2 separate regions of the Homo sapiens genome follow, and region 1 is linked to region 2. Evidence: fine-mapped expression QTL. A gene starts in region 2. The other region holds a variant in brackets. All regions are shown on one strand. Distances are between the middles of the regions.

Region 1 (12,775 bases), 94 kb after region 2:
CCAGAGGCTGGGAAGGATGTGGAGGGCAGTGGTAGGAAGAGAGATTGGTCAGTGGGTACAAACATACGGTTAGGTAGAAGGCATAAGTTCTAATGTTCAACAGCAGAGTAGGGTGACTGTAGTTAACAACAATGTATTCTATATTTCAAAGCAGCTAGAAGAGAGAATTTGAAATGTTCCCAACACATACAAATAATAAATATTCAAGGTGATGGATACCGGCCCAGATACCCTGACTTGGTTGCTACACATTCTATGCATGCAACAAAATCAAATATACCCCATAAATGGATAAAATATTGTATAGCAATAAAAATGTACAATCCTTGCTACTCTCTCCTCTTACCTTGCTTCATCTTTTTTTTGTAAAATACTCCTACCTCAAATTACATAATTTATTTGTTTTGTAATGAATGAATGATCTATAATGATAATAATGAACTATGACATTAACAAATGTTAATTTCCTTTGTTATGTGAAACTGATACACAAAATGATGTCCCTCTGGTTCAGATCTCTAAAGTGAAGTCAGGAAGCCATTCTAGGGAGGACTGACGACCTGCAACCTTGCAAACAACAACAACAAAAACCCTCAGAAACTTGCCTCGAATTTTTGGGTTGGGCCAAACAGCCTTGATGGCAACGTTCTGGAAAGCAGCTGAATTTCACCAGCGCTGCAACTTCTGAACAGAAACAACCAATGATCTCAGGTACTAAGCCAGCTGCCTCTACCAGTGATATATATTTTTTCAAAACAACTTGCATAATCATCCTCAGCTTCTTTTTTTTTTAATTTTTTTTAAGGGACAGGGTCTTGTTCTGTCACCTAAGGTGGTGTAAAGTGGCACAATCCTAACTCACTGCAGCCTTCACCTCCAGGGCTCCCATGAGTCTCCTGCCTTAGCCTCCTGAAGTGCTGGGATTGCAGGTGTGCACCACCATACCCAGGCCTCGGCTTCCTTTTAAAAATGCATACTCCCCTCCCTTTCTTTGGAACACAAGCTGACTTCTAGTCGAATCTGTGTCTTCCAAATTGCAATTCTTAAGACTCCAATAAACACCTTGTCATATGAAAAAAAAAGAAAAAGAAAGGCTTCACAGAAGCAGCAGAAATTCAGAGATTGGGAAATGCGTGAGAAGAAAGGCAAGAGGAGAGCACTGCGACTTTAGCAAGACTCAGAGTGGCCACAAGGTCTGGTCAGGGCAGGGAACAGAGAAGAGCAAGATGTGGCTGGAACAGGGGTGGTCAGGATAGGGACAGCTTACCAGGAGGAAACTGGAGCAGACTGTCGATTGTGAAGGCCTTCATGATGGTCAAGATGAGAGGTGAGAAGGGCTTGCACTGGGCGAAGCTGGCTGGAAACAAAAGATGGGAATGAAGAAACCAGACCTTACAAACGTTGTCTTACAGGGGCCTGGCAGGGCCTCCTTCCCAGGACCAGACATACAAGATTGAGGAGCCAGGGCTGGGTCTCAGAAAGGACTATGAGGAGGTTAGCAGTTATTTTATTTATTCACAAACAATTATTAAGCACCTATTAAGTGACATGCACTGTTTTAATCACGGCACGGCAGTGAACAAGATCATGAAACTCTTCTCAATGAGTATGCTTTCTGTAAGGATCTACTAGGAGTCTCCATTAGAACCCTGGAGGAAGTGCTTCCTAGCCACGGATTCTGTGCTTCCTCAGAGCTGTCTCTGAAGAATCAGTCACAGCCAGTTCTTTTGGTTTGCTTACTCTCAGTTTCCCCACACAATGCTCTGTTCACTTTGGCTGTTCACTCTTCTAAGCGGCACTCATCCTACACTGAACGTTGTCCATTGACATCTGCTTATTTGCATGGATGTCAGCAGTGGCCCACATCAGGGAAACAGAAGACTTGGTGGTTATGCCTAAAGTAATCGAGAGCTTGAGACGGTGCCAGTATCATGCCTGCTGTGTGAATCAATACAAATTTAGGTTTGAACTCCTTGGTGGTATGCAAGAGGTATTCAAGGCATCCCTTCAACTTTGCCTCCTCTTCTTCCATGCTCCTCCTTTTGGCAATACCACATCTCCATGAAACCACTAGAGGTTGTCTACACATGCTTGTACCTCCAAGCCTGTGTGCCCTTGCACCTGCTTTTCATGGAAAGCCCATCCCCACTTTCTCCACCTGTTGAGTTCTTAGTCATCCTCTATGCTTCAGTTTAAATCTCACCTCTTCTCGGAAGCCATACCAGAACGAGTTGCTCCCTGTCCCATTCTGTGAAAGCCTCTGTATCTTACTTGCAGCTCCTTGATGATCTCTTGCTTTTTTATGGTTCTTTCTCAGCACACCTGTTCTTTCTCATGCAGCAGATGCATGCTCCTAAAGACCTAAGGTCTTGTTTTAATGTTTTCAGGATACAGCATGGTGTTCTGCAGTAGAGGCGGCTCAATGTCATCTTTGCTAAATGAGCAGATGGGAGGTGTTGCTGCTGCTAAAGCTGATGCACCTTACCTGGCCACTGATGCTGAAGCCAGACTCCTCATCAGACGGCAGAACTGAGACTGGCAGGGTCTTGCTGCCTGCCATCACCAAGGGACGGCAATGTGCTGTGTGGCTCCAAGGATGCAAATGTGGGGCGCCTCTGAACGTGTCTGTTGTTGACATCCTCTTACAATGTGGACCCAGCACAGGTGCTCTGCTCCATTTGTCAGACACATGTTTTAATTTCCCACAGGACAGAAAAGTCCTGAATGCAAACTCCACTCAAGTGACCTGTGTGTGTATTATTCTTTGTCACTTAAGTCTTTACACTTGGAATCATTTGCATTTACCTTAAAGATGAAGCTAGAAAGATTCTTTGAAACTTCAGGAAGTCTGAATGTGACTTAAATGTGACTTAATTGTTCAGAAAAAATTGTTTAATTTTTTAAAATTTTTCTGTAAGTTATTGGGGTACAGGTGGTATTTGGTTACATGAGTAAGTTCTTAAGTGGTGATTTGTGAGATTTTGGTACACATATCACCCGAGCAGTCTACACTGTACCATATTAGTAGTTTTTTAATCCCTTGCCTCTCTCCCACTCTTCCCCCCGACTCCCCGAAGTCATTGTATCATTCTTATGCCTTTGCATCCTCATAGCTTACTCCCACATATCGGTGAGAACATACGATGTTCAGTTTTCAATTCCTGAGTTACTTCACTTGAATAATAGCCTCCAATCTTATCCAGGTCACTGCAAAAGCTGTTAATTCATTCCTTTTTATGTCTGCATAGTGTTCCATTATATATATGTATCTCCATCATATATATATATATCTCCATCATATATATATATCTCCATCATATATATATATATATCTCCATCATATATATATATATATATATCTCCATCATATATATATATATATATATATATCTCCATCATATATATATATATATATATATATATATATATATCCATCAAATAGATATAGTTTCTTTATCCACTTATTGATTGATGGGCATTTAGGTTGTTTCCATGATTTTGCAGTTGTGAATTGTGCTACTACAAACATGGATGTACAGATTATTTTTTTTTTTAATAAAGACTTCTTTTCCTCTGGGTAGATACTCAATAGTGAGATTGCTAGATCAAATAGTAGTTCTACTTTTAGTTCTTTAAGGAATTTCCACACTGTTTTCCACAGTGGCTGTACTAGTTTACATTCCCACCAGCAGTGTAGAAGCATTCCCTGTTCACTGCATCCACGCCAACATCTACTGTTTTTTGATTTTTTAATTATGGCCATTCTTGCAGGAGTAAGGTTGTATCACATTGTAGTTTTGATTTGCTTTTTTCTGATCATTAGTGATGTTGAGCATTTTTTCACGTTTGTTGGCCATTTGTATATCTTTTGAGAATTGTCTATTCATGTCCTTAGCCCACTATTATTATTATTATTATTATTTTATTTTTTATTTTTAGACGGAGTTTCACTCTTTTGCCCAGGCTTGAGTGAAGTGGCATGATATCTGCTCACTGCAACCTCCGCTCCCTGGGTTCAAGTGATTCTTCTGCCTCAGCCTCCTGAGTAGCTGGGATTATAGGCGCCCACCACCATGCCCAGCTAATTTTTGTGTTTTTTGTAGAGATGGGGTTTTGTCATGTTGGCCAAGGTCTTGAACTCCTGACTTCAGGTGATCCATCAGCCTCAGCCTCCCAAAGTGCTAGGATTACAGGTGTGAGCCAACGCATCCAGCCCTTAGCCCACTTTTTGATGGAATTGAAAGAAATCATAGATGACACAAACAAATGGAAACACATCCCATGCTCATGGATGGGTAGAATCAATATTGTGAAAATGACCATACTGCCAAAAGCAATCTACAAATTCAACACAATCCCCATCAAAATATCACCATCATTCTTCACAGAATTAGAAAAAACAATTCTAAAATCCATATGGATCCAAAAAAGAGCCCACACAGCCAAAGCAACACTAAGAAAAAACAACAAATCTGGAGGCGTCACACTACCTGATTTCAAATTATACTATAGGGCCATAGTCACCAAAACAGTGTGGTACTGCTATAAAAATAAGCACATATACCTATGGAACAGAATAGAGAGCCCAGAAATAAACCCAAATACTTACAGCCAACTGATCTTCAACAAAGCAAACAAAAACATAAAGTGGGGAAAGGACAGCCTTTTCAACAAATGGTGCTGGGATAATTGGCAAGCCACATATAGAAGAGTGAAACTTGATCCTCATCTCTTGCCTTATGCAAAAATCAACTCAAGATGGATTAAAGACTTAAACCTAAGGCCTGAAACTATAAAAATTCTAGAAGACAACGTTGGAAAATCCCTTCTAGACATTGGCTTAGGCAAGAATTTCATGACCAAAAACCCAAAAGCAAATGCAATAAAAACAAAGATAAATAGCTGGGACCTAATTAAACTAAAGAGCTTTTCAGCAGAGTAAACAGACAACCCACAGAGTGGGAGAAAATCTTCACCATCTATACATTTGACAAAGGTCTAATATCCAGAATCTACAAAGAACTCAAACAAATCAGTAACAAAAAAAACCCAAACAATCCTATCAGAAAAATAATTTTTTTAAAGAGTCTACATTTCAAAAGGCCAGGGCTCTTTAAGATAATGGATTCGGAGTCCTCTTACCTTTTCAAACACACACGTTGCATTTATGTAAAAAGTGCTTATTAACTCTAAGTACCTCTCTTATTCTTTGGTCTTCTCTTATTCTGGGAGTCACTGTGAAACCAGGCAAGGGCTTAGAATTTTTGATTCCTGCTTCAAAAACCCAAGCCATATGCTCCATGCCAGGCCAGGGGCTGATCCCACGTCTGTGGTTTCAATTCCTCTCCAGAGGACCTGGGTGTTGGCTTAGTAGGGGGAGAAAAGCAACCAGGCATTTTTCCTCTTAAAAATCCACAGATACTTCGATTTAGTGTTTGCTGAGTGTTTTTAGAGCTATTATCACATTTGCTTCTTAACAGTAAAAAGATTTGAAAGAATTATCATATTTAACATGGAGAAAACTAAGGCTCAGGAAACTAAGTGATCTTTCCAATAACATGCAGCTGAGAAGTGGTGGAGCCGAAACCAGTATTCAGCGCCCCTTGTGGCAGGACCAAAATTTCCTGTTTCCCATCCTGCACTCCCGTAAGCACCTACTTCCTTGTAAACACTCACCCTGTACCCTTTATCTCAGCTGACTGTCAGCTAGTCTCCTGAAGGTGACAATAGCTTATGGTGTGATACTTTCCAGGGAGACTTAAATTTTCCCCAGGAATAAAAAGCAAACAAACAAACAACAAAAAAAACACTAAGAGCTTACTTGGGGGAGTTTTGGGTTGGTGACAGTCTGCTGCAGAGTTGTCTGGATGACCAAAAGTTCTCTTGGCATCCCTATGGCCACCACATAAGCATGCATGTTATCAATATTTTTCTAGGTCTGAACCCCAAGGTTAATGGCACAAGAGAAGAGAAAGGAGGAGATGCCAAATGGACACCCTGTAAGCAATTCCATGTTGTGTGGGCCTCAGTGGGTCCTGTGGGGGGTGAGACCCCAGAACACTGGGTTAGGAGGCCTGCAGCTTAAGCTTAATGCGGAAGCACAACCTGGCTTTTCACACAGACTTTTCTGTATTCCCTCACCCACTTGGATCAGGCCACAGAAAAAAAAACAACAACCTGTTTCTTTATTAATGATGCTTTCTGCAGAGTTAGATTAAGCACTGATTAAAGGCAGATGCTTCCAAAGTATAAATGTAAGTACCCTCTCAGTCACTTCTCCGGTTACAGGGTTTCCTACACAATTCTTTAAAATCACTTTGGCTTTCTTCCCATTTGCCTTCCTCCACACTCTCCACCCAGCCTCCAAGCCGCTCCTCCCAGAAGGGCTCCAGGCAGCTGCCAGGAGCAGAAGCTCGAACTCTGCTGAGAGACTTGCTCTGTGGAGAGCTTCAAGAAGTATCGCTGGGATTGCTGTCTGGAGCCACCTTACCAAGAAGTCAGGTAAGTCCTCTGGGCCGGGTGCAGGCCTGTTCTGTTCTTTCAAGTCTGGGACCTGCCACCTGGAACTTGGTTTGTTTTTCTCATCAGGGTAGAGTACAGGCCTTTTGTGATTATTTTCTGATCAAATTAGAAGCAGAGAGCGGGTACGAGATATATGGCTCAGCTGGTGGAGTCCATCGGGTTGTTCTCCCTGCTGTCAAATACACTGAGAGGTCATGGGCTCACAGGGACAGGAGATGGCCAGCTGGCCTAATAGGCGCTTGCAACCCTGGACTTTGTGCCAGCAATTGGACCTTGCTAGAAAAGGTCATCTCAAATCTTGTCTCCAACTGAGGCGATGGTAAAAATCCTCCAAATATTTTCTGAATTCCCCGTGGCCAATTTATTTAATCAGAAATTGACATGCATGATTTCTTTACTGAAGAGCTAGCAAACTAATCTTGGGATTGACTTTGAATTGAGATCAATTTCATTAAACTCTGATCATGTTCGTTTGCTTTCTGATTTTCTTATGGGATCTATGAAGAGGGAAAGAGATATCTTTTTTTTGTAACTTACGTTAATAAATATGGATTATGTGTCACCAAAGTTAAGAACTTGTTCAGGTTACACCTAAAATGAATGAGGAGGTTTTCTGTAGGGCATGTCTACCATTAAGCTGTCTGACTTGGGTGGTGGATGAGAGTGTCATGGTGAGGCCAGTGGAATGCCCGTAGGACTGACATGTGAATGAGGAGGTGGCAGTGGGTTGAGGTCCTGGGAGGCCACATCACACACAGTGAGGCTGCCATAGACGCATACCAGCCCAGTTGGAAGCTTGTGAGGCTTTCTCCTCTTGACTCCTTTCTCCCATCTCCTTGGGGATATCTTAGTTTTAAGTAAGAAGAACTAGGCACGTAGGAGGAATTGCATGGTGGCTAAGAGTATAAGGCCTGGAATGGAATTGTTTCGGCTTGAGATTTTCCAGCACTTACTTATGTGATCATAAGCAAGTTTTCTCAATTTCTGTAAGACCTAATGTCTTCTGCAAAATGGGGATGATGTAATCATGCCCACCTTGTAGATTTCTGGGGGAAATTCTGAAAGATAATCCATTTAAAGCATTTGCCCCTTTGTTTAGCCCATAATTCATAATTCTTATTAACCTCAGTGTGGACCTCTGGCATTCCAGATTGTGTGGACCAGATCTATGCTGAAATGTTCCAGGTGAGCAGTTGGAAACATCTTGCGATTTCCCTTACTGGTTAGGATAAAGTATGAGAATCACAGTATCAGTTTGCTCTTTGCCAAAAGAGAAAGCTAGAAACACCAGGCAAGGAAGGTATAAGGTTAAAGCCTCTGACCTTAAAGAGAAGGCCATAAATAATCCACCTTCATTCTAGATGAACATTTCTTTCAGATATCCCCAAGAATAATATATATCTCATAAAATTGTTTTGAGGGTTAAATGAGATAATGTATGTTAGTTAACACACTCCAAATTTCACCTGGAACAGCATAGACACTATGAAATGGTAGCTTTCTTTATGAAAATGTTCTTGTTATAGGGTTTAGTGAAAAAGTCACCATTTAAAATTGTTATACAGGACAATGACAGTCATATGAAATATATGGACAAAAAGACTACTGCAAAGAGATACACTAAAATGTTAAAACTTGTACATATTAGATGGCTATGGCTTGTGGGTAATAATTTCCTTTTCCTGATTTCTAAATTGTATTTAGTGAATGACTCTATCAGCCAGGGCCCCAGCAGGAAACAGATGGCAAGCTCAAATTGGACATTGTGAGGATATTTTATTAAAGGGACTTTTTACAAAGGTGTGGGCAGAGTACCATAACAGAAGCAGGTGATGGTGCATTTCTCAGGTTGGTGAGAGTGAGGTGCCATTACACCCCACATCAGAAGAGGCAAGGGAAGGGAGGTGCGAGCCCTGTAGATGGGCACCTCACAGGCACTGTGGCCCATGGCCACCATCAGGGGAAAGCTGGAAGAGAAATCC[CT/T]GCCCTCACTCTCCCATCATATTCCGGGTCACTTGCTGGATACCTCTCACCAACCAAACCCAGCCATAAGCCAGAGTGTGAGAGATCCCATGGGGGGCTACATGTGGGTCAGCTTTGCATCACTGAGCAGAGTGGGGAAGGATGGAGAGTGAGCTGGAGGGCACAGTGAGGCTATGTGACTTTTATAACTACAGGCGAATTCATAAATAAGAGCCAGGAGTCCGTGTGCAGCCCTCAGTGCTTTCACACTACGTTGCCTATTGTCCAGGCCACCTCCCTCCCTCCTCCCAGCTAAATGACTTCTGATTCCTCGTCACCATGCCCCACTCAGGGCTCCCACAGCACCCAACAATTGCCTCTGGTGCAGACGTACACATGGCATGGTTTCATCCTCCGTCATTTCTTCACCTGGTCTCCACAGATTGGAAGACCCTGGAAGGCTGGTGCTTTATATCCCTTTGCATCCCCAGTGCCCAGCACATGAATGAATGAACCATGGGAGGTCAGGCCTAAGTGCTTCTATAAAGCTTGCAGCTTTGGAAAGTGAGGCCTTAGTCCTCTCTCCTAGGTGAGTGTTTGCTTTCTGTCTATTCGGCAGGAGTGGGCCAGTCTACAGAAGAGCAGTTGCAGAGTTCCCTGTGACAGGTAGCCCTGGCCACCCTGCAAGACTGGCCCCTGGGCTCATGAAGGTCTTGCAGGGCCTCCTCACTGCTCTCCCAGGCTCTGTCATTCCCCACGTCAAGTCGTAACCCGCATGTGGCCGGCCTCCCAGTTTAAGACTGCATGCAAGTTGAGATTCTGCTTGTTTCCTTCATGGCCCAAGGGGATTGGGAGCCTGTCGTGCTTGATATCTTGTCTCTCTAGTTTGAATCAGAAGATGTTTTCATCCCCTGAAGGATTTTCACAATCCTTTTGCAACCTATAAAAGTAACACAAGCACATAATTCAAATAGCTTAGAAGGAGAAAATGTTGAGAAGGATATAACGTTAAAAGTAAAATGTCTCCACTTTCACCTATGCTCAGTCCCACTTTTAACCATTTTAGTGTTTAATTCTGGTCATTTTCTCTCTTTAATTTTTTTTTAAGTTTTATTTTTTTCTTTGAACTACTATGCCCAGGGACTATTTAATTTTCAATTGACAAAATAATCATTGTATATATTTGTAGGGGGTCTCTCTAACTTTAAATTAGCTTACACTGCTATTTCTTGATTTATACAGTTTGAGTAGAAGTTTTTGAATTGTCCCTATGGGAGATGAGGAATTTAGCTTATTGATGGTAATCCTTCTGGGCTCCCCATGATTCTTCCAGTTTTTGTTATCTGTATTTAAAATTTGGTTTTGTACTTATCTGTGTAATTTTAAGGTATAAACTTATTTTTGTATGGCTTGACCAACCTTTCATAGAGTGTCTTGACTCTCTAAATGTTTAAGGTGAGAAAATTGGTATCTTTAATCTTCCCTTCACTTTTTCTCTCCGACTTCAGCTTGTAGTAAAATTTTATAACATTTATAGCATTTGTAATCTACTCTATAATTATAATTAATTCTGCTTTATCTTTAGGATGATTGTGAAAATTAAAAACTAATAGATAACCTGAATTATATCATAATTTTGTAGCTACTATTTTCCGGAACCAAGAACTGTACTATATTTGGACCCATAATAAAGGTAAAGGAATGGACCCTGATGTTACTATCTGCTGCACATTCAAGGTCAAGGTCAAATGAATTATCTTATTTTTCCTGTTATACTGAAGGATGTTCCTTACCAAGGTTCCTGTCAAAATGGCAGGGTATCAGGGTTCAAATCATTTAGTTGGCTTTGTCTATAAACCATTACTTTTGAAGTACGTCTTATTTTGATGGAATTTCTCATTACCTTTCTTTTAACATTTGGAAAAACCATTTTCTGAAACATATTTTTTGTTACATAAAATTTTCTTTATAGTTTAAATATTTTTCCCAGGATTCTCTGACTTTTCTGTCAGGGCAATTGCTTCTTTTTGTTTGTTTGTTTTTGCTTTTTTTTTTGAGACGGAGTCTCCCTCTGTCACCCAGGCTGGAGTACAATGGCTCAGTCTTGGCTCATGGCAACCTCCACCTCCAGGGTTCAAGTGATTCTGCTGCCTCAGCCTCCCAGGTAGCTGGGATTACAGGCACGCACCACCACACCTGGCTGATTTTTGTATTTTTAGTAAAGATGAAGTTTCACCATGTTGGCCAGGGTGGGCTCAAACTCCTGACCTCCTGATCTGCCTGCCTCAGCCTCCCAAAGTGCTGAGATTACAGGCATGAGACACCATACCCGGGCTTTTGTGCCGAACGTGCAGGTTTGTTACATAGGTATACATGTGCCATGGTGGTTGAGCAATTGCTTCTTAAGCCTATTGATGTGTGGTTGACCAGAAATATTTTATTGCACTCTTCGGTTAAGGACATAATGTCTTGGATTCCATGCATCCTGCTTTTCTGAATTCTCTTTTCATTGTTTGGGAGTATATACTCAAGTAATTTTTTTTGTAAAGAGTCATTCAGAATCTGAAAATTTTATCTTCAAATTTGTTAGCAGGACTTGGAAAATAATTGCACTTAGCTAATTTAATTCTTTGATCAATTTTCTAGCAATGCAATCTATTTTCTGCACAGAAAATTTTCAGAATTAAGTATTTCTGTACAAATTTCACCATAAGGGTTTGAGTCATTTCAAATTTTACCAATTACAGCTTGTGCCATATTGATTTTCTATTAATTTATCAATTTTATCTATTTTGTGGATGCAGCCTTGATTTTCACAGTCGAATTTTCCTGAGTTTACTTATTAAAGAATACTTGATTCTTCCATTAATTGTTTTTTCAGTTAATAAGGAAATTTTACTGCATACTGCATGTGGTTTTATTTTGTCAGATTTATTTGAGTTCATAATTTTTATTCAGTTTTCCTTTTCCTGGGTCAATTTTTGCAGTTTTCAATATTACTTTCATTTTTTTTGGGACAGAGTCTCATTCTGTGGCCCAAGCTCAAGTGCAGTAGAGTGATCTCAGCTCACTGCAACCACTACCTCCTGGTTCAAGCGATTCTTGTGCCTCAGCCTCCTGAGTAGGTGGGATTACAGGCACACGCCACCACACCTAGCTAATTTTTCATTTTTAGTAGAGATGGGTTTTCACCATGTTGGCCAGGCTGGTCTCAAACCCCTGGTATCAAGCAATCTGTCTGCCTTGGCCTCCCAGTGGGTGTAAGCCACTGCACCTGGCCTCAATGTTACTTTTCTTTTCTTTTCTTTTTTTGAGACAGAGTCTGGCTGGGTTACCCAGGCTGGAGGGCAGTGGCACAATCTTGGCTCACTGCAACCTCCGCCTCCTGGATTCAACTGATTCTCCTGCTCAGCCTCCCGAGTGGCTGGGATTACAGGTGCATGCCACCATTCCCAGCCAATTTTTGTATTTTTAGTAGAGACAGGGTTTCACCATGTTGGCCAGGCTGGTCTCAAACTCCTGACCTCAGGTAATCCATCTGCCTTAGCCTCCCACAGTGTTAGGATTACAGACATGAGCCACTGTGCCTGGCCAATGTTACTTTTAAGATGTGGTTCTTTAGGTGTGTGTGTGTTTTTTTGTTTTTTTGTTTGTTTGTTTGTTTGTTTTTTTATCATCTATAACAAATTTTACTGTGTACAGTTTCAGGGGTTGTCAGTTTTATTTTGTGTTATATTTATTTTTAGCAAGTTTCTCTTTCTTAAGAACCCAGGCAAAATATCTCCCAGAGTCAAAATGGCAGGGTGAAAGTGTCCAGTTGCTTCTTTAATCGCCCCATTAGGATGGCAGCACCTGCCACTGGACTCCTTGCTGTAACTGAGCATAGGGTCCAGGTTTTACCATCCAGGGTCTTTCACAGCGCATCCATTTTACAGGATTGACTAGCATCCATATTGTGTTCACTGCAAAAGACTTATGCTCTGAATTAAATGTCTTTCTTGAGCTCTAGAGTCAAATGCAGCAGAGTCTCATTATATGCCCACTTCATTCATACAAATTCAATTACACATGTTCATGAGGAGGGGGAAATTGAAATAGTGCGGGGAATTCCATCATCCAGACCTATCAATAATGAGCTTGACTCTGGATGAATGTGGGACAGACAGTGATGAATCTACAGTCCTACATTCAGTTTCAGCTGACATATGGCTCTCACAGTATTATCATTGCTTGCCCTAATCATAGTATACTTGAAGGATCATACATTGCCTTTATCATGGCCCTGAAACAC
Region 2 (12,573 bases):
ATAATTTTTGTTTTTATTTTTTGAGAGAATCTTGCTCTGTCACCCAGGCTGGAAAGCAGTGGCCCGATCTTGGCTTACTACATCCTCTACCTCCCAGGTTCAAGCAATTCTCGTGCCTCAGCCTCCTGAGTAGCTGGGATTACAGGCATATGCCACTGTGCCCAGCTGATTTTTGCATTTTTAGTAGAGATGGTGGTTTCACCATGTTGGCCAGGCTGGGTTTCAAGTGGTCCACCCGCCTCAGCCTCCCAAAGTGCTGGGATTACAGGCGTGAGCCACTGCACCTGGCCAGCATAAAAATAATTTTTAAAAGACAGGTGAATATTTACATAGTCCCTTGCCAGAGAAAACTCTTCCAACATGCCAAGAAAGATGGTAATCTTTACGAAGGAAAAGAGCAATGGTGATCTGGCCAAATACAAGTCAAAACCTTTTCTATGTACAAGAATGTTCACAGCATTGTGGCATTCACAATAATGTTACAAAAGTGGAAACAACCCAAATATCCATCAATGGACAAAACAAATAAAATGTGATGTGTGTGTGTGCATATATATATATATATATGCACACACACACACTGTACTGACACATGCTATAACGTGGATGAACCTTGAAAATGTGCTAAGTGAAAGAAGCCACATATTTTACAAAAGGCCACATATTTTATGACTCTATTTATATATAATGTCTAGGATAGACAAATCCACACAGAAAGTAGATTAGTAATTGCCAGGAGATTGAAGGAGGGAAAAATGAAAAACGGGGAGTAATTGCTAATGAACATAGAGTAATTAAACATTCTGGAGTTAGGTGACCAATAAACAACTTTCCGAATATACAAAAAAATCACTGAATTGTACACTTTGAAAGGGTGCACTTTATGGTATGTGAATTTTATCACAATGTTATTATTTTCTTAAACCTTCTGAATGTCAAAAAGTAACACGAGCAAGACTAAGAGAATAATGAAATAAATATGAAAGAAAGTTTACTCTTAACAAGATTCCTTATAAAATAAGAAAAAGTCAAATTTACCAACAGAAAGAGGGACAGTTACAAAAAGGGACTTTTTAAAAAAGAAATGGCCAAAAACCCCATAAATAATCAAAGACAAAATTAATATGAGATTATTTTACCTATAATACAAGAATTTTTTAAAATAACTGCCATTTTTGTTTCCCCTGAGGATAAATAAACACTTTCTGACAAAAGTTTTAAACTCTTTGAAATGTTCTTTAAAATTCAATTTCCAGAAATTTGTCCTTTAAAAAGGGCCAGGGCTGCAGACACAAATAGCTACAAGGATGTTGTTTTAACCCAGTCTTTTGGATGCAATTAACTGTAACTGAGATCTACTCAAACCAGCTTTTGTTTGTTTGTTTGTTTTTTAAAGGAGACTTCAACACAAGGATATCTTAACAGAGCCCAAGGTCAGGAAATACAGTCATCATTTATAAGAGGCATTTAAAAAATCAAATCATGACACTTCTCTGCTGAAACTTTCCAATGGCTTTTCACAAAATTTAAAGTTCAAACTCCTCAAATGCTTAGTTCTGACCCTGCATCCCCCACTCATTTCAAACTGACTGCCCCCAGCTTCTTTTATGACAGTCATTCCAAACTCCTTTCTGTTACCGTAAACACATCAAGCTCTTTCCCATCCCAGTACCTTCTCATTTACTGTTGCCAGTGTCATGAAGATTCACCACCCCTCGAATCCCTATAGGAATACTCTTTCTCCAGCTTTCATCTTGTCTAACTCACCCTTACTCTTCAGATCTTAGGAGAAAGGTCTCCTTGGAAAGGCCTTTCTGATCTCATTCTCCTCAGGGTTATGACCCTATCTATCTTACATTACTTATTTAACAGTTCTTACCACATTCTGTATTTTTTTTTTTTTTTTTTTTTTGAGACGGAGTCTCACTGTATCGCCCAGGCTGGAGTGCAGTGGTGCGATCTTGGCTCACTGCAACCTCTGCTGCCCAGGTTCAAGCAATTCTCCCAACTCAGGCTCCCGAGTAGCTTAGATTACAGGTGCCTGCTATGGCGCCCAGCTAATTTTTGTATTTTTAGTAGAGACAGGGTTTCGCCATCTTGGCCAGGCTGGTCTTAAACTCCTGACCTTCTGATCCACCCACCTTGGCCTCCCAAAATGCTGGGATTACAGGTGTGAGCCACCGCGCCCAGCCACATTTATATTTTTTGGTGTATCTTCTCCATTAGAATAATAGCTCCAAGAAGGCAAGGGACTTGTCTGCCTTGTTCCTTCCACCCCTGTGCCCCCATTATAGTGTCTGGCATATAAAAGACATACGTATCATTGCATGAATTGGCTTTCCAAAGCCACCAGGAACCAAGCTAGCTTCAATGTCAACTTCAGCCTCTCTCAATCTCTCTTTCTCTGGGGTTCCAGGGCTGCTTACCTAGCTCACATTTCCTTTAACTGAGACTGTGCAGCATATCTAAATCTTGATATCCAGACTTCTGGGAGATTATCTGACTGGTTAAGGCAAGAGTGAAAGAATAACCTGAATGTCAGAATTCTCATTCTAGGTGGAAAGTAATTACTGTTAAAACCAGTCTGGGCCAACCTCTTCAACGGTATTTCCTAAAGACGTGTGCTTTAAAATGCAAAAGAATTAGAAGTATCCTAGTTGGATAAATTCTAGCACGCACATCTGTAAAACACAACACTATTCAATCACTTAAAATGTTGATGTAGGCCAGGTGTGGTGGCTCATGCCTGTAATCTCTGTGCTTTAGGAGGCTGAGGTGGGAAGACTGCTTGAGCCCAGGAGCTTGAGGCTGCAGTGAGCTATGATGGCACCACTGTACTACAACCTGGGCAACAGCATGAGAGCCCTGTTTCTAAAGAATAAGAAAGAGTTGATGGAGGTCTAGACTGATAAACATGGGCGGAAAGCCATGATATATTTTTAGTGAAATATGTGTGGTCCAACACAACAATGTACAATAGTCATTATTATAAAAATGTTTCAAAATATTAAATATTTCAGAACAAATACACAAGTTTTGAAGACTATACATATATAAAAATAACCAGGGGCCAGGCGCAGTGGCTCATGCCTGTAATCCCAGCTTTGGGAGGCCAAGGCGGGCAGATCACGAGGTCAGGAGATCAAGACCATCCTGGCCAACATGGTGAAACCCCGTCTCTACTAAAAATACAAAAATTAGACGGGTGTGGTGGTGCGCACCTGTAGTCCCAGCTAGTCAGGAGGCTGAGGCAGGAGAATCACTTGAACCCAGGAAGCAGAGGTTGCAGTGAGCCATGACGGTGCCACTGCACTCCAGCCTTAAGACAGAGTGAGACAATGTCTCAAAAAAATAAAAATAAAAATAAAATAAAATAACCAGCAGTTATTTCTGAATGATGGGATTATGGTGATTTTTCACTCATTCATGTCTCTTTCATGTGTTCTGAATGTTTTACAAACAACATGTATTACTTAGTTTTTAAAATTTGATCATTTGTTATCCAAGTAATTCCTGCTTGTATTTAGAAAATCAAATAGTAATGACTGTAATGAAAAACAGTCTCTCTACTGTCTGGATAAGACTCCCACACCTAGTCTTCATCCCTAAAGGTAACTAATTGCAACTCAGTTGTTGCTACTGGATAGTTAACTGCATTTCTCTAAATATTGTGCTTATCCTATAACTTTTTGGCTCATCCATTTTAGACATTATCGATTTACTCATGCTACTGTAGATTAGGATGTAGTTCTGAAACTACCCTCAATATCTCCTCCCTCTACTCTTCTAATATAGATACATCCCTATTTTTAATTGAACAAATAATCCGTGCTATATTGTTGTGACTGTAAGGCTATCTACTAAGTACTATATTATGAATACATTTCCTTCCTCAAAGAGCTTTTTGTTTTCCCTAGAGTTTTAATTTTTCCTTCTTCAATGGTTTTCTCCACTTTAATTTCAATTTTAATTGCTGTACCACAGAACTCACCCCCACCCCTTTATTTTCTCAGAAGGCTTCCCCCTCCAAACCCTCCTTCTTCTCATTACAATCTAGGCTGACTGCCCTCTAGATCTGCTGGCACAGCTGTCACCTTTGGTGTTTTCCTTTACTGCTTTTCTGGGTTACAGCCATTGTTTCCTGAATTCTAATGCCTCCTTCTTTCTTTGTTCACTCCATAGTTTTGCTGAAATACATCCCCAATACCTTAAGAAAGTAATATAAGAAAAGGCACATGGGTTGGCAACTTAGTCCTTGCATGCCTGAAAAGGTCTTTCCTCCACATTTACACTTGATTTAGCAATTCTCTCAGCTCTTGAAAGCATTGCTGTAAGTTCCTCTAGCATCCAATGTTGCCACTGATTTCAATGCCATTCTGTTTCATACAGCTTTAAAGGGATCCTATTTTCATTCTTTCCTCCACTCCCTCGTCATCTCCTTCCCTAAGCTTTCAGGATTTTCTCTTTTTCCTTGGTGTTGTGACATTTCTTGTTTGTTTTTTCTATCATTAGTTTTTCTGTGCATTTAGAAAGCCCCTTCGATCTAGAAATTTGCGGCACTTAAGCTCCGGGAAATTTTCTTGTATCCATTATTAATCATCATCTCTGTTTTCTTTGCTCTTTCTTGAACTCAAATGAGTCAGATACTGGAACTTTCAAACTGATCCCTCATCTTTTATGCATTCTGTATTATCTATCTTTGTCCTTTCATTTATTTTTGTAACACTTCCTTTACTATTTTATAACTGGAGGTTTTTTCAAAGCAAATTATAGTATGATGGAAAAAAAATCAAAGCAATATCTTCAATAAGGAAATGGCTAGACAAATTATGGTACATCCATTCTATGTGGTCATTAAAGAACGAAAACTATATATGCTGATATGTTTCAAGACATGTCACCTTAAAAACTTGTTATCTGCATCCATTAAAGTACAGAGAAAAAATTTAAAATGTCTGGCTATAGAAAAATAGAGGAAAATGGATTTAATTCTTTCAACGAATATTAACTAGGCACCCACTTGTTGCCTGGCACTATTCTAAATGCTGAGGATACGGTAGTGAGCACAAAAGTCCTCTTGGCATTTAGCTGGGGAAAGAGCTTAACTAGAAGTGGCAGCAAGTTAAGCGAAGTATTTTTTTTCCCCAAGCACTGTGAAGCACTGAAGGAAGAGGCCATAACAGGAGGAAAAATGGAGGCACAGAGAGCCAATCAACAGACTCAGGTTGCTGGAAAATCATACCACCAAGGGACTGCTAAGGATGGAAAAGACTTGCTTTGATATCCTGGTTACCAGAGAAAATGCTACATCATGTATCTGAATTCACATATTTGATTATGTTTCTGACAGTCACAAATCCATCCCTCTTCCCTCGTATCTCTAGTTTTCCTAGAAGTTGAAGATGGTAGGACATGGACTCATTTAAAATTATGTCTACAATTAATATGCAGTATGTTTGGACCCCTCTCCACTGATTTTAAGTATCATTTTATTTTATTTTTGAGATGGAGTCTCGCTCTGTCACCCAGGCTGGAGTGCACTGGTACAATCTCGGCCCACTGCAACCTCCGCCTCCTGGGTTCAAGCGATTCCCCTGTCTCAGCCTCCCAAGTACCTGGGATTACAGGCATGCGCCACCATGCCGGCAATTTTTATATTTTTAGTAGAGACGGGATTTCGCCATGTTGGCCAGGCTGGTCTCGAACTCCTGACCTCAAGTGATCTGCCCACCTTGGCCTCCCAAAGTGCTGGGATTACAGGCATGAGCCACCACGCCTGGCCTCCACTGATTATTTAGCAATATTTTTAAGTCTCAAGGGTTTGTCTTGGCCTACAACTTGACAAGGAGCTCAGGGCTACTGTCTCGTGGTCTGAGACAGTCAGGAGACAAAGTATATTTACTCCAAGTACCCATGTATGCTTTTTCCAAGATGAGAAGTTTTCTTTTTGATGTATAAGAGCAAATAATGTGGTAAAAAGTTCAAAAATACAAAGTTGTGCATATTTCAAACTAAAAGATATCCCATGTCCTGTCTTATCTATAATCACACAATCTATTCCCAAAGGGATAATCACTGCTATTACCCTTCCTGACTTTTAAAATGCATATTTCCTTTGTGGAAATGGGAATATGCCATGTTGACTTGCTTTTTTGACTCTCTCTCTCTTTGAGGCCTCCCTGGAAGACGAGCAGATCCTAGCACCATATTTCCTGTAAAGCCTGCAGAACTATGAGCCAATTATGCCTCTTTTCTTTATAAATGAGCCAGTCTCAGGTATTTCTTTATAGCAATTCAAGAATGGCTTCACACAACACCCTTGCATAAGTAGGGACAGATACATGCATATGCAATTTTGTAGAATATATTTTTAGATAAGGAATTCTGGGCTAAAGGGAATGTTTATTTAAAAATTTGACAAAGCAAGACACAAAACAGTGAATACTATGGCTCCATTTATAGCAAAAAAATATGTTAAGTCAGGTACACAAACAGCAAGAGGTATAGAACAGCGGTTCTCAACCAGCGGCAATTTTGCCCTTGAGGGGACATTTGAAAATGTCTGGAGACATTTTTAGTTGTCACAACTGGGGAGATGCTACTACATCTAGTTGGTAGAAGCCAGGGATGATGCCAAAGAACCTGTGATGCATAGGACAGCTCCCTCCCTCAGACACAGCGAAGAATTATCCAGATGAAATTTCAAGAATGTTCAGGTTGATAAACTCTGGTCTAGGATTAAAACATGACATTGCCCGCAGTAGCTTTCTTGGAAGCATGGAGGGCAACTCTAATTTATGTTTTTGTTTGTTGGGATTTTTACAATGAACACGCATTAGTTTAAAAAACACCTCATAGACAATGATGGTTCAGATGAAATCAATCCCTGTGGCTTCTCAGGCTGCTTCTATACCTTAGGGACAAATTCCGAAAGTTCCCTGAATCTTCTCTTCAGCAGGTTAATCTAAGACAGCTCTTTCAAAAGTTCTTCATAGGAAATAATTTCAAGTCAGTTCACCAATCTGATTGCTACCTATGAAGAACAAGGTCCTAAGTGCTGAACACCAAACTCTAATTTTGTACTTTGACCAGTGAAAAGTGGAATTATCTATCACCTGCCTCATTCTACGTGCACTGGCTCACATTCAGCCTATTGGAACACTGTTTTTCCAAACCTGCTGCAGTTAATTTACATTTTCTCCATCCCATACTAGTACAATTGCCTTGTAAGTCTTTTTAAAATATATATACTTTATTGCATGCATTTTGGGAGTGGGCAGGCCTGGGAAGGAAGCAAGCAGGGAACACACTGCAGTAATAGGAGTTTTAAGTCTTAATGCAATAAACTGAAAGGCCTGATTAACTACCCTTACTCTCCTAAGATGTACACCACCATAGAGTCTATAATACAATCGGGTTACTTTTTGAGTTATATTTCAGTCCCAAGGAGACATTCTCACTACCTGCCTTGGATGCTGGTGATACTTAAATCCTATCACTAATGCACTGAAAAACACCTAATAGGGTGAGTTTAGACTTATTAATTTCACTCATTTCAACAAACATCCAGTGAGTGCTTAAGACACTGTACTGATCAGTGAGATCAATAAAACCAAGATGTGAACTAATCAGAAGACTTTATGGCCTACCACCTTCTGCTGGGATTACCTTACTGAAGGACCCCTTCATCTAACTACCTTTATCTGACACTTGATTTCAACCCGCAGAACTCCATATAATGCTGTGTTTTATAAAGAAAGCCTAGGTGTTAATTATTTCTACACCCTTTCAATCCCTTTTCCCCTTTGGGGGCCACCCTAAGTGCTAGGTAAATGTTTAATGAATAAATGCACCAAACTGCCACTACCACATACAATATACCTGCAGGCAAACACCTGTAAGAGGGCTTTTATTCCCTGCATCACTGAAAATATTAAGTGGCAATAACTATTTTTTAATATTATTATTATACTTTAAGTTCTAGGATATATGTGCACAACGTGCAGGTTTGTTACATAGGTATACGTGTGCCATGCTGGTTTGCTGTACCCATCAACTCGTCATTTACATTAGGTATTTCTCCTAATGCTATCCCTCCCCTAGCGCCCCCAGCCCCCGACAGGCCCCGGTGTGTGATGTTCCCCGAAGTGGCAGTAACTCTTAAGCGTAACCGCAAACAAAAGTGAATTCACAAAGGCATAAGGCACAAGACACACACGGTAAGATTAGACAACTCTTTACCACATGGACAATAAATTACACAAACAATAAAGACAGATTCAGCGATGCACACTTAAGATGAAGAAATGGTGAAGAGGAACTTAAATACCAAAACAATTAAAATTATAATTTCCCCACGCACATTCTTATGTCACTTAAACCTACCCAGGGGACAGCTCCCACATAAGAGAGGGCTGGGGGCTCCCAAGTGCGGAATCCTCAGCAGAAACCCCGCAGGGCCGTTGGCGCTCCGCCGCCTCGCCACGCCCCCGCACAAGCCGCTCACTCCTCCAACGCCCACCCCCCTGGGAAACCCCTGGAGGCCTCGGCTCCGACGCAGCGAGGGCAGAGCGCTTCGAAGAAAGACAGGGCAAGGGGGAGGCAAGTGGGCGGGGAACGAGCCTATCCCGACCCCGCAAGTCCACTCCTACAGAAGAGCGGCGACAAGCAATCCCGGGCTCAGAATGCCGCCCACGAGGGTCCCGGGCCTGGGCCCCAAGGGCCAAGCAAGCCGACCCCCGCCCCTTCCTCAAGCCGTTAGCGCCGCGGCCCCACCCCTCGTGGCCGGCCGCGCCCCGCCCCGTTCGCCCCATGCCGCTACCCCAGCTGGTCGTGGCGCCGGGCACCTTCTAGCTGGAGTGGGCCCGGAGCTGCCGGCCGCGTCCGGAAGACCGAGGAACCGGGCTTCCATACCTGCACTTTCCTCCGCCCTGCTGTGTTCTGCCGGTGATGGGCCGCCATCTTGCATGTTGACACTCCGACGTCACTTCCGGAGGTGGCTCAGAGCGGGAGGATGTCCTGCCCCTTTCCCTTTGGCCAAGGGTTAGTGGCGGGGCTGAAGGTAAACAGGCTGTTGTGTTTCCTCGGTGCTGTTAGTTGCTGTGTGGCCGGTAGCCATGTGATGAGGTAGATGCACCTAAAAACAAAACCACTGTGCAAGTATAATGCTGATGGGGAGAGAGCCACTTTTCAGGGCTGAGGGAGCAACACGAATTCACTTGTGTGGTCCTAGACCCTGGCTTGCGCTCTTTTCCGCGCCCTCCCCGAGAGGCCCAAGCAAAACGAAAGCACTGAAAGAATTAACAGTGCTAGACATGGCGCTGGACCATCTCCTGACCTTTCCTAGGCAGGCAGGAGAACCAAGTGAACCAAGTGATTTACTGTTAAGTACCTAAAAATGCGGAGAATTATGTCGTGGCCTCAAAGGGGGAGAGATAGAAGTCCTTGCAAAGGAGGTGGCCTCCATCTTCAGGGGGAGCAAAGAATCCGTTTAAATTAAAAGGATAAAAAGTGGGGCCATAAAAGAACGAGATCATGTCCTTTGTAGGGACATGATGGAGCTGGAGGCCCTTATCCTTAAGCAAACTAACAAAGGAACAGAAAACCAAATACCGCACGTTCTCACTTATAAGTGGGAGCTAAATGATGAGAACACATGGACACAAAAGAGGGGGACAACACACACTGGGGCCTTTCGGAGGGTGGAGGGTGGGAGGAGGGCGAGGATCAGGAAAAATAACTAATGGGTACTAGGCTTAATACCTGGGTGACAAAATAGCCTGTACAACAAACACCCGTGACACAAGTTTACCTATATAACAAACCTGCACTTGTACCCCTGAACTTAAAAGTTTAAAAAAAAAAAACAAGACAAAAAGATGTTATAGGAAGGCGAAAACGGTACACCAGCTAAAATTGTTCCCAGAGACAATTCTAGTTTAAATCATCTCTTATACTGGAACAGTTAGGTTTGACTTAAGGTGGTTTTCCTGACCACTAATTATAAGAGCTGAGGGTGATCAGACCCTCTCTAGTGAAAGTGAATCCTATAGAACTACACTGTGGGATATAGCATATGATGTATCTGCTAGTCATTTGTGGCTCTTGAGCACTTGAAATATAGCTAGTTCCAGTTGAGATATGTAATTGTAAACTACCCCCAAATTTCAAAGACTAGTTTGAAGAAAAGAATGTAAAATATCTCATTAATAATTTTTTGTATTGATTTCATGTTGAAATGATGTTTGGGGGTATATTAGGCTAAATAAAATTTATTAATTTTGTCATGGATATTAGAATATTTAAAATTACATATGTGGTCACAAATTTCTGTTGCATAGTGCTAGTATATAAGTAATGCTTAGAAAAGTTGTCTTGACAAATACTTCTTAAATTAATAAAGAAATGTGAATTAGATGAGTAAAAATTGTGATGGCAGAAAGCTTCTTAAGCAAAACTGGCAGTGATAACTTATAGGTAAATTACTGCATCATTACAGGCTTATTCATTCACTGATTCATGTATTCATTCATTTAACAAAATATTATTTAGCATATCATATATGCCAGGCACTATATTAGGTGTTGGGGAATCAGTGGTGAGTGCACATAGTCATAGAACTTAGAGTCCCAGGATGAGACAGGAATTAATACAGAGATAAGTACTATGAAGAAAGATGATTGTAAGACAGGAAGTATCTTGAGTCAAGAGTTAACTAGGCAAGGAGAGGGAACAGTCTGAGCAAAGGTCTTGTAGCAGGAGAGAGCATGGAACATTACAGGAACTGAGAGTCAAGGCTTAGAGTACAGAGAAGTGAAAGGAGTATGCAGAGGCCATACCCAGCAGGATCTTTTAGACCAATGGGAAGCTGTTGAAATACAGGTAGGGAAATAATATGTCTGTATTTTAAAAATTGCTTAAGTGTCTATTGAGCACCTATGATGTGCAAAATACAATACAGGTATGTTGCTCTGGACAATATACTGGTACTTGCTAGAAATTGATATGTTGTAGTCCTGCTTTGGACCTGAAAAATATTGAAATAGTGAAGTTCTTTCAGTGGGCAGAATTTTCACCAGTATGTTTTGATGTTCAGTTTGGCTGAAAGGAGAAATGGTCAATTCAGGGTCAGAGGATAATTTTTTGGCCAGTTTGTGAAGGACATGGAAAGAGCAAGACTGGAGAACTAGTGACAAGGAAGACTCCAGAAGGGATATAGTGATGGACCTCTCAGAATAAATCTTAAGAATCATATGGATGAAATGAACTGCTTTGTGATGAAACTCAGCCTCACTGCCTGCTCAGTAGAATCATGAAATAAATGGCAATGGCAATGGCAACAGGATTGGAGCTATGCATGGGATCACCAAGCCACCGCTGGGTGTTCAGAAGCAGTGACCAATACCCCATGCTCTGGGAGGGTCAGCCAGTCACATGTAGGCAAGTCTATTCCATTGGTCATTGGCCCTCCCCATCATTGAGGGAGTTCTTATTTGTCCTCTCTAAAATATGTTTATTCTAGATTGAGATTTGCTTTCCCTGCTCACTGTACTTCCGCTGACACCACCATCTAGGGAATTACTCAGTGCTTTAGACACTATCATTTTCTCTAACACTATATTGCTTTTGACCAAGAAATTCACTCTGCAATGAAAGAAGTAATGCAATGGGCTATTGCCCATGGAATTTATTGGTCTAATTGTGTACTCAATCACTGAGAAGTATCTTGTCTTATTGAAGATATATTGAAGACTTAGCTATGGTGCCTTCTGGGAGATAACCCTTTTTGATACTGTCCTGTAGGATGCAGTATATGCTCTGAACTACTGTCCAATATTCAGCACTCTTTTTTCCTGTTCCTTTTATCTATTGCTGTTTAACCATCTGCAAAATGCAATGGTTTAAAACAATTACAACCCTTACTTTACTTACAAATCTGTAATTTATGCAGAGCTTCATGGGAACAGATTGTCTCTGTTCCACTATCCACTTCACATCAGCTGGGGCAGCTAAAAGATTGGGGCTGGAATCATCTGAAGACCCCTTCTCTCACATGTCTGGTGACTGATACTGGTGTTGGCCTAGTCCTTAGCCAAAGCTGTGGCTAGAACACCTTCTCATGATCTTTCCACAGCACTATTTGGTTCCTCACAATATGCTAACTGGGTTCCAAGGATGAGCATCCCGAAGAAGAAAAATCTGGTTGAAAGCTATAATGCTTTTTCTAAACTCACAGTGGAAGTCATGCAGTGTCACTTTAAGCCATAGTCAATTCATTAGAACTTAGTTACTAAGGCCATCAGTGTCTAAGGAGAGGGGATTAGATGACTCCTTTTTTTATGAAGTATCAATAAATTTGTGGATGTATTTTTTAATTGACACATAATAATTGTACATATATATGGGGTACAGTGTGATATTTTGATACCTGTATACAATCTGTAATAATTGCTTTGGGAAAATTCAATATCCACTCTTTTAGCTATTTGAAAATATGGAATAAATTATTGTTAATCATAGTCATCCTACAGTGATATAGAACACCAAAAATTATTCCTTCTACCTAGCTGTAAT

The links. PIP is the estimated chance that this variant, and not a neighbour inherited with it, causes the effect.
Region 1: its variant is fine-mapped to the expression of SCN11A in hypothalamus (GTEx, PIP 0.98).

The regions. Positions count from the first base shown.
Region 1 is chr3:38,954,009-38,966,783 of GRCh38, reverse strand. SCN11A (sodium voltage-gated channel alpha subunit 11) reads left to right here. Exons shown (of 30, transcript NM_001349253.2): 3 at 6,361-6,501. Among named protein-coding and RNA genes, the nearest start is that of SCN11A, 92 kb to the left of the region's middle. The variant CT/T (reference allele first, on the strand shown) is at 8,505.
Region 2 is chr3:39,048,414-39,060,986 of GRCh38, reverse strand. It overlaps SCN11A (sodium voltage-gated channel alpha subunit 11), which reads left to right and starts at 9,043. Exons shown (of 30, transcript NM_001349253.2): 1 at 9,043-9,126. It overlaps WDR48 (WD repeat domain 48), which reads right to left and starts at 8,971. Exons shown (of 19, transcript NM_020839.4): 1 at 8,914-8,971. The coding sequence starts at 8,961. RefSeq lists a silencer at 8,768-8,867 and enhancers at 8,908-9,097, 9,118-9,167, 9,178-9,267, 8,938-9,810.